Homo sapiens: one gene and its partners. The protein of the gene in region 3 purifies or fractionates together with the protein of the main gene of each other region. This does not show direct contact. Each region holds a gene or a part of one and is shown on either strand. Other genes may lie near its edges. The genes, in order: GDPD5, SCARB2 and TPST1.

Region 1 (2,558 bases), on a different chromosome or scaffold from region 3:
GTGTCTCCCTGGGGGAGGGGACCCTGCCTGGGTACCCCCATCCCCCTGCCTCTGGCACTTACAGGGGCCTTCACCACTTGCCCAGGGCAGACCCTACCAAGTTTCTGCCTCTCTCTTCCCATCTTCTCCCTCCCTGGCTCTGCCTCTCCCACTGTTCACTCTTCCTGTTTACCTTTCTCTGCCTCTCCCATCTCTTTCTCTCTCTTCTTTACATTCTATCTCTAACACCCATCCCTGCTTTGCTCCCCGCAACACACAGCCTTTTCCTCATTCCCCTCAGAGGACCCCACAGTGGCTGAGCTTCCTGTTCTGGATATGCCTGGCCGAGAGACCCTGGCCTGACACTGTCCTTCTGGGTTTCAACATGAATTTCCAGGATGGGACCTAGAGCTTAGGGACCCACGTCTCCCTCCGTCTAGTGCCTTAGCCCCTCCTGGGTCAGGCAGCTTCACCAATCAGCTTCTAGGAGGAGATGCTGTCCCTGGCTATGGGACATTCCTTGAGTCATTCCTGTGTCCGCCCAGTTGACCAACATCCACATACACTGGTTGCTGATGCTGTCTGCAGCAGGAGTTGGGCCTTCTCACATGGAGCCCCAGGGTGCTGGGGAGGCCACCCCATGGTGATTCAGTGGCTGGCACAGACACGCTGGGTCTGCTCAGACACAGCCAGGGCAGTGTCATTGTCTCCTGGGGATCAGGAGAGGCCTGGTGGAGGAAGGTACCCTGGGGGACAAGGCCGGGGGAGGATACTCTTTCCCTGTGGGCCTTATTCTTCCATTCATTCACTCAACAAGTACAGGTCAGGCTCCCGGGACACGGCAGGCACTGATGGTACTGGGGCACAGCGATGAACAGAGAGAGATTTGCTCACTGCCCTCAATGATTCATAGGGCAGCCAGCCTCGCCAGGGTGTCCGTGCCACCCCCCGCCTCCTGCTTTCCCCTTGTCTGCCTGCTCTGTTCATCCATCCATCCGCCTGTCCATCTGTCTGTCCACTTCTGCTGCGCTGACCCCATCTAGTAACTCACAGTTGGTTTCTTGTGGAGTCTTGGCTCTCTCCATCCCCCAAGCAGGGTTCAGTCCCTGAGGCAGTTGGGTTCTTGTTCCCAAGTTGATCACCCCCTCCTCCTGGTGGGGACAGGGGTGAGAGTCCAGTGATCCTTCTGCCTAGATCCCAGGAAAGGTCTAAGTTCAGAGGCCAGGGACTGGGGCTAGTTCAGAGGAATGACAATAGTGAAGACAGTGGCCTGGGCTGGGCACAGAAACCTGAGTCCTTTCCACTTAGTGCCTGGTCCCTTCATGCCCTGTGCATGCTCCACCTCCCAGCCCACTCTTGAGTAATTTTACCCCCACCTTGCACCTGTCTCAGCCATCAGAGGGATTCATGCTCTGACCTCCCTCCGCATTAGGACTGCCAGGACAGAGCAGCAGTTGGCCCCACTCCAAGTCACTCTAACCCCCTTGCCTTGGGAACCTGTGCAGACCAGCTCTGGGCAAAGCCCCCTACCACCTGGCCCCACCCCCCTGCTTTCCTTCCCTCCCTCTCAAGGGGTCTCCCCAATGGCTTCACTTAGTCTGGTCATGATGGTGGAGCTATAAGAGACATCAGCTGGGACTCCCTGAGATTGGTGTGTGCCCCAGCTTAGGTCAACAGAGTCGTGCCTACTAAGCTCCTCCTGCTCCCAAATCTGTCCCATTCAAAGAGAGCCAGGTGCATTACTGGGGACACCTGAGACAGAACTAACCAACCCTAGTCCTGGGCCAGGGCTGCTGACTGGCGGCTCTGGAGGTAAGAGGGAGGCCAGGGAGCCCTGGCCGAGAGTCAGTAGGCTCTGATTCAAGCCCCAACTCTGCCCTCTCTGGGCCTATTTCCCCATTGTACAGTGGGACAAGAGTCCTGCTGGTCTCTTGGGCCACATCCAGAGAGGCTCTGGAAGTAGGCAGGGTCTCTGCTCCAAGGGAGGGCTGAGGAGAGACCTGATGCCCACGGGGCCATCTCTGCAGGTGGCGCCTGGGTGGCATACGGAGCTACAACCCTGAGCAGATCATGCTGAGTGCTGCGGTGCGCCGGACCAGCCGGGACGTCAGCATCATGAAGGAGAAGCTTATTTTCTCAGGTACACAGCCCTGCAGACAGGTGGAGGCAGGCCCTGGGCCCAGCTTTCTGCACCCCCACATGCAAACAGATGTGTATGCACACACATTCACATGTGGCACATATGGGTAGGGACAAGGGCACAGACGTACATAAACCCACCGGGATTATACCCACAGACATACAAAGGCATAAGTACACGTGTGAAAACACACACCCCCACACACACAGTCATCCACCCTGTCATCCACCATGGCTTGGTGTCAGTGCCATGGTTGGTGGGCAGGGGTGGGGTAGGGAGAGGAGTCTGTTTTGAAGGCCCATCCCCCTTTGCCTGGTTCGTACTTGGATCCTACAATGTTGGCCTCACCCTTGCTCTTTGCCAGTCCCTGTCAACATTCCCAGTCTGATGGAAGCAGCAGCTACGTATATAAACAGTGGCAGGGAAAGTCGAGTTCCTG
Region 2 (3,657 bases), on a different chromosome or scaffold from region 3:
AACTCAAATGTGATCATCTTTACTCTTTCTTGTGCTTATCAATTATAGGTCACTTGACTGGTGGATAACAGACAAGTGCAATATGATTAATGGAACAGATGGAGATTCTTTTCACCCACTAATAACCAAAGATGAGGTCCTTTATGTCTTCCCATCTGACTTTTGCAGGTAAAAGCTTTAAAGATAAGTTCTTTTTCAAAAATAAGGTCTTTCACTGCAAGACCACCAAAAGCATGAGGAATATATGCAGACACACTTATTATGCATGGATATTTATGCATAATCAGTGATAAATGCTGATGGCACATCGAGACAGTATAGTGTACTGGTTCACAGCACAGACTTCTGACTGTTGGTTTGAATCTTGGCTCTACCACTTATAGCTGTGTGACCTTGGGCAAATTACTTAACCACTCTGTACCTCACTTTCCTTATTTGTAAAACAAAGATAGAAATTGTTAACTATGTTAGAGGTTGTTATGAGGACAAATGAGTTAGTATTAGTCAAATACTTAGCCCAGGGCCCATCACACAGTAACCAATATTAAGTGTTGGCTCTTAGTTACTATGATATGCTCTGTCAAGCATCAACTGACCTGGTCTACTTCCAGTCAATAGGTAGTCTCTACATGGAAGCCAAATAAAAGATACTGTTGTCCATATTTCAGCAGAGTGGTTTCCTCAGGGGAGGCAGAGAAGGAATGGAATCAAGAGCATTACGTAGACAGGTTCAGTTATATCCATAATATAATTTTTATTTGTCTAAGTGGCAGATACAAAGGTATTTGTTAGAGTATTTTATCTCTTTCTGGTGCCTAAAATTTTTCATTAAAAAATGCTGTAGGGGTGGTTTGGTTTGTGCAGTGAAACCACCTATGTTATTCACAACCTTGCGAGAGATGTATCAACAGCTCTGGTTCAGAGATGAAAAAGTGAGGCCCAGAAGGCTCTTCCGGCCAGCCTTCAAAGGAAGGGCTGAAGGCTCAGTGGTGACTGTGTACATCAAAGTGGTTAGGCACTATGCAGTGTAAGCAGTGGTCATATTACATGGGACTATGTTTGAAATCAGTAAGAATGAAAGGCAGAATTACGTTGAACTCCATTTAAATAAATGACTGGGGCAAAATATGGAATCTGATTTTTCTTGGAGGGGGGGATTGAGTATCAAAGTGTGTATTCCAATAAAGTATCTGTCCAATGTGACACTTTTCAAGTGCCTAAGACCCTACGAGGCCACGGCCATCGCTGCCTGTTCTACCTTAGCTTTGGCTCTGCCGTGCCCTGGCTTCCCTGGCTTTGCCGGTGGCCCGTCCACACTGGCATATGTCCATGCAGGTCTAGAGAGGCCTCTTATTTCTTTTTTATGTGAGTCTCCATTCTAAATGTTATCATCTTAATTTTGTACCACATATTGTTTTTTCTTGTTTGGATGATATCACCGTTGCTACAATAAACACCTTCCACTACAATTCATCTTCTGCTTTATTACACGTTGAGTTGACAGAATGCCTTCCAAACATTCCTTTCTACTTACCCTGTGAGCTTTTGGCCATGTTGTACCTGAGAACTGTTGCTAACTTGCGGATTTCGGGCAGATTACACTGACCAGAGTCCACATTCACTTTTTATTCTTACATCCTAACAGGTCAGTGTATATTACTTTCAGTGACTATGAGAGTGTACAGGGACTGCCTGCCTTTCGGTATAAAGTTCCTGCAGAAATATTAGCCAATACGTCAGACAATGCCGGCTTCTGTATACCTGAGGGAAACTGCCTGGGCTCAGGAGTTCTGAATGTCAGCATCTGCAAGAATGGTAAGAACTCAGAGAGGGGACATGATAGGGGTGTCAAGAATGCAGAAGGATTGGAGTTCAACAAAGAATATGTAGCTGGGCGTAGTGGCGCACACCTACAGTCCCAGCTACTAAGGATGCTGAGGTGGGATGATCACTTGAGCCCAGGAGTTCTCAAGTCCATCCTGGGCAACATGGCGAGACCACTGTCTCTAAAAAACAAAACAAACAAAAAAGAATATATTGTCAGCCCAATAGAAAGATCAGTTTCTTTCAAGAACAATGTTTCATAACATGGCTATTGAATGGTAAAAAAAAATCATGGCTTTTCTGTGATGCTTTTTATTTCTAGAATGCCATGTTGTGTTTTTTTTTCTGGACAGTGGTTTAGAAGTCTTAACAGTAATAATAGCTCATGTTTACTAAGCACCTGATGTATGCCAGTCACTGTCCTAAGTGCTTTACATATTTACATGTAGTTAATGCATGCAAAACATTAACTGATTTCATGTTCAAAACAATGCTAAGGCTGGGCACGGTGGCTCATGCTTGTATTCCCAGCACTTTGAGAGGCCGAGATGTGAGGATTGCTTGAGGCCAGGGGTTCAAGATCAGCCTGGGCAACATAGCAAGACCCTGTCTCTACAAAAAAAAAAAAATTAAAAAATTAGCTGGGTGTGGCGGCACACACCTGTAGTTACAGCTGCTCAGGAGGCTGAGGCAGAGAGATTGCTTGAACCCAGGAGTTCGAGGTTGCACTGTGCTATGATTGTGCTGCTGCACTCCAGCCTGGGCAATAGAGTGATTCCGCACCTCCCCACCAAAAAAAAAAAAAAGCTAAAAGAAAAAGTGGACAACTCAGTTTTAAGAAAGTACGTATCATGGCAAAGATTCTCAGTGATTTTGAAGCAGAGTTAGTTTTAAACCCTGACACAAATGTCCCAGTGTTTCTTAATGTCAGAGCTACTCTGCTCCTTTCCATGAATGAGGCAGAATTATCAGTGGCACAACTGACAAAACTATTTTCTTCATCTTGAAGAGTAGTTTTAACAGCCACATGTTGCAGAATTATTCACAATGAACTTACTAGATAGTAGACATTCAGCGGCCTGTTTTTATAATTGGGGAAACTAGGGCTCAGAGAGGGAACGTGATTTTGATGCGACTCCTCCCTCTGAGCAGATCCCTGGCGGAACTCAGGGTCTTCTCATATTTGCCCTGTGATTCCCTCTTGGGCTGTAATTCCTCTTTAAAATTTCTCTGGAGAGCTCTCTGTGTAGTCCCTTTCTCCTGAATAGTAATGTGCTCACTTTTGCTCCCTTATCTATCTCATTTTAAAATCTCCTTTCAGGCCTGGCATGGTGGCGTGTGCCTGTAGACCCAGCTACTCAGGAGGCTATGGTGGAAGGGTCGTTTGAGCCCAGTTTGATTCTAGCCTGGGCAACATAGCGAGACTCCATCTTTTAAAAAAGAAAAAAAAAAAAAGAATAAGATATCATTTTGGAATAAGTCTGAAGTCAGCAGTATACCTCCTGATCCTTGTCTGACAGGGCAGTGACCCCCACACCTGGCTTTACATCAGAATTATCTGGAGAGTTATTAAAAATATATTGGTGAGGCATGGTGGATCATGCCTGTAATCCTAACACTTTAGGAGGCTGAAGCAGGAGGCTCACTTGAGGCCAAGAATTTAGACCTGCATGGGCAACAGGGAGACCCCATCTGAACAAAAAATTTAAAAATTAGCTGGGCATAGTAGCATACACCTATAGTTCCAGATACCCAGGAGGCTGAGGCTGGAGCGTAGGAATTCAAGGCTGCAGTGAGCTATGATTGCAACACTGCACTCCAGCCTGGGCAACA
Region 3 (3,657 bases):
CTCCCGGGTTCAAGGGATTCTCCTGCCTCAGCCTCCAGAGTAGCTGGGACTACAGGCACCCACCACCATGCCCAGCTAATTATTGTATTTTTAGTAGAGACCAGGTTTCACCACGTTGACCAGGATGGTCTCCATCTCTTGACCCCGTGATCCCCCTGCCTTGGCCTCCCAAAGTGCTGGGATTACAGGCATGAGCTACTGCGCCCGGCAAGACTGTGTGTTTTTAAAACAAGAATGACTACGCATATTTGACCAGTGACTTGTTAAGCAGGAAAGAAAGAAACAGCTGGTCAGTTTGCAAAATCATGAGTTCAAGCTCTGTTTTATATCACTTATCAACTGATTTATTCAACCAACTTTTATCAAGTTTCTAAAATGTATCAAGTACTGTGCAAGGCAGTGATGAAAAGATAAATAAGGCATGGTTTCAGACTTCAAGGAATTCCTTAGCTATAAAAATGGACCAGCCGGGCGTGGTGGCTCACACCTGTAATCCCAGCACTTTGGGAGGCTGAGGTGGGCAGATCACCTGAGGTCAGGAGTTCGAGACCAGCCTCAATATGGAGAAACCCCGTCTCTACTAAAAATACAAAATTAGCTGGGCGTAGTGGTGCATGCCTGCAATCTCAGCTACTCAGGAGGCTGAGGCAGGAGAATTGCTTCAACCTGGGAGGCGGAGGTTGCGGTGAGCCAAGATCGCGCCATTGCACTCCAGCCTGGGCAACAAGAGCGAAACTCCATCTCAAAAAAAAAATAAAAATAAAATAAAAATAAAAATGGACCCAGCAGATATAATTTAAATAAAATGTGATAACTCCTTTAATAGGTAAATGTACACAGTACCAGGAAAGCAAGAAACTATGTCAACAAAGGCAATATTTATCCTGGTGTGTGTGTGTGTGTGCGCGCGCGTGTGTGTGGCAGACAGACAGACGGTCTCACTCTGTCACTCAGGCTGGAGAGCAATGGCATGATCATAGCTCACTGCAGCCTCAAACTCCTGGGCTCAAGCAATCCTCCTGCCTCAGCCTTCTACATGGCTGGAACTACAGGCATGTGCCATCACATGTGCCTGGCTAGTTTTTTCCTATTTTGTAGAGACAGGGATCTTGCTATGTTGCCCAGGCTGATCTCAAACTCCTGGTCTCAAGCAATCCTCCCACCTCAATCTGCCCAAACTCTGGGATTACAGGTGTGAGCCACCACACCCAGCTGTCCTGATATTTAAAGGATGAGTTACTACTATTGTTCTTCAGGGTTCTATCACTCCCTCTTTGGGCTCTCAGCCCAGTTCTCAGTCCTAGATACCTATCACCATCTCATGGGAAGCATCTTTAAAGTAACAAGGTCTGGCCCTGCACCAGACCAAATGATACAGAATCCCTGTGGATGCCTCGATCCCCCATCCTCATTCTTTAAAAGCTCCCCAGGTGGTTTTTAAGTAGTGCCTATGTTGAAAATCACTGAACCAGGCAATCTCACCTACTTCTGATGACTTCACTTTCAATTCTAGCACAGACCCTCCATATATATCTCCATCTTTAGGGCCAACTGCTCTCTCAGGCGATTTCCTGGGCATCAAGATGTTATCATTGGCTTCCTCCTTTTCCCTCAAAATTTGTTTATTTTCCTGTATTTCCTACCTGGATGAACAGAACCACCATTACCCAGACACCCAAGCCTGAACTCAGTATGTCATCCTTGACCCTTCCTTCTCCCTCTCTCTCACCTATACACCTAACCAGTTCTCCTTACTCCACAAATTCACTCCCAAATCTAACCCCTTAGCCTCACTGGCCTCATTATCTTTCACCTACATTCCTATAATGACCACCTATTGGTCTTTGTGCACCTAGTCTTGCCCCTCTCTAACCTGTTCTCTACAATGCTACCAGAGATCAGAGTAATTTTTCTGAAAATACACCTGGGGCCAGGCGCAGTGACTCACACCCATAATCCCAACACTTTGGGAAGTCAAGGCAGAGGGTTACCTGAAGCCAGGAGTTCAAGACCAATCTGGGCAACATAGCAAGACTCCCATCTCTAGAAAAATAAATAAACATAATCAAAATATACCTGGTCACAATACTCATTCATGTTACCTGCCAGAGTAGGGGATGCAGACATGAATCAAAACCCATCCTGATTTCAAAGCCCTACCCTTAGAGTAGAGAAAGACATGTAAACAAGTAAATGACAGTAGAGATGAAGAGACATGGATTGCAGGCAGATGTGGGAATGCTTTACTGCAGAGATAACCAGAAGCCTGTATAATCTACAGGTGGCTAAGTGGGAAAACGCATTCCACGGAGAAAGAGAAACATAAAGCCATTTAGGCATGTTCAGGTAATAGAGGTGATTTTATATGGCTGAGGCAAAAGGCAAGGCATGCAGCAAGACACAAAGCCTGAGATGGGAACAAGCCAGACTTTGTAAGATCTGCCCAGGAAGAAATCCTTCAAAGGTTCCTCGCTATCATCAGGATTATGTGTTAGGACACACAAGGTCATTCATGAGCGGCTCCCATATACCTTCCCAGCCTCATTGCTCATTATGCCCATTCTCCAGCCTTTCCAAATTACCAGTTCTTTCCCAAAAGCACCAGGTTATCACACATTTTTCTTTTTTCTTTAATTTTGAGATGGAGTCTCACTCTGCTGCCCAGGCTGGAGTCAGCTCACTGTAACCTCTGCCTCCCAGGTTCAAGCGATTCTCCTGCCTCAGCCTCCTGAGTAGCTGGGATTACAGGCGCCCACCACCACGCCCGGCTAATTTTTGTATTTTTAGTAGAGATGGGGTTTCACCATGTGGCCGGGCTGGTCTTGATGGTCTTGATCCGTCTGCCTCAGTCTCCCAAAATGCTGGGATTACAGGCGTGAGCCACCGCGCCTAGCCTAAGACACACTTTTCCATATGTTACCTTCTCTTCCAAACTGCCCATCTCCCCTTACCTTTCCTTGTCTAGATTCAGCTCTTCTGAAAACTTAGTTTACTGAGCACTATGTACTTGGCAATTTGCTAGAAACTGGAGATACAATGAGATATGACACAACTCTTTCTCTTAAAGGGTTCACTCTCAAGTCAGTGAGAAAAATAAGAAAACAGAACATTATAAATAGTAAAAATGGGCTGGGCACAGTGGCTCACGCCTGTAATCCCAGCACTTTGGGAGGCTGAGGCAGGCAGACTGCTTGAGGTCAGGAGTTTGAGACCAGCCTGTCCAACATGATGAAACCCTGTCTCTACTAAAAATACAAAAATTAGCTGGGTGTGGTGGCAGGCGCCTGTAATCCCAGCTACTCGGAAGGCTGAGGTACGAGAATCACTCAAACCCTGGAGGCAGAGGTTGCAGCGAACTAAGATGTTACCACTGCACTCCAGCCTGGGCAACAGACCAAGACTGTGTCACAAAAAAAAAACTAAAAATGGTATAAGTGGTAAAAATGGAGATGGAAGTATGTACAGGGTGCTGTGGAAACACAAAGAAAAGTCACCTAACCCAAACTAAGGAGGAGGGGTAGTCAGAAAAAGTCCTAGGTGCCTGTAGACAGAAACTTGTCCTCACTCTCACCAGGGTGATGCTCCCAGAGCACCCTGTAGTCATCTCTGTCACAGTCTTGATTTTACGGTAGTGAATGGTCTGTTTCTTTACTGCTT

What was found.
Region 1: the proteins of TPST1 (region 3) and GDPD5 purify together in Homo sapiens (co-immunoprecipitation; one large-scale study listed by IntAct). This does not show direct contact.
Region 2: the proteins of TPST1 (region 3) and SCARB2 purify together in Homo sapiens (affinity purification with western blotting; one study listed by BioGRID). This does not show direct contact.

The regions. Positions count from the first base shown.
Region 1 is NC_000011.10:75,436,497-75,439,054, reverse strand, and holds part of GDPD5 (glycerophosphodiester phosphodiesterase domain-containing protein 5), read left to right. Parts: intron 1-2,006; coding exon 2,007-2,119; intron 2,120-2,558. UniProt on the Homo sapiens protein: Glycerophosphodiester phosphodiesterase that promotes neurite formation and drives spinal motor neuron differentiation.
Region 2 is NC_000004.12:76,172,302-76,175,958, reverse strand, and holds part of SCARB2 (lysosome membrane protein 2), read left to right. Parts: intron 1-48; coding exon 49-168; intron 169-1,645; coding exon 1,646-1,815; intron 1,816-3,657.
Region 3 is NC_000007.14:66,208,239-66,211,895, reverse strand, and holds part of TPST1 (protein-tyrosine sulfotransferase 1), read right to left. Parts: intron 1-3,657. UniProt on the Homo sapiens protein: Catalyzes the O-sulfation of tyrosine residues within acidic motifs of polypeptides, using 3'-phosphoadenylyl sulfate (PAPS) as cosubstrate.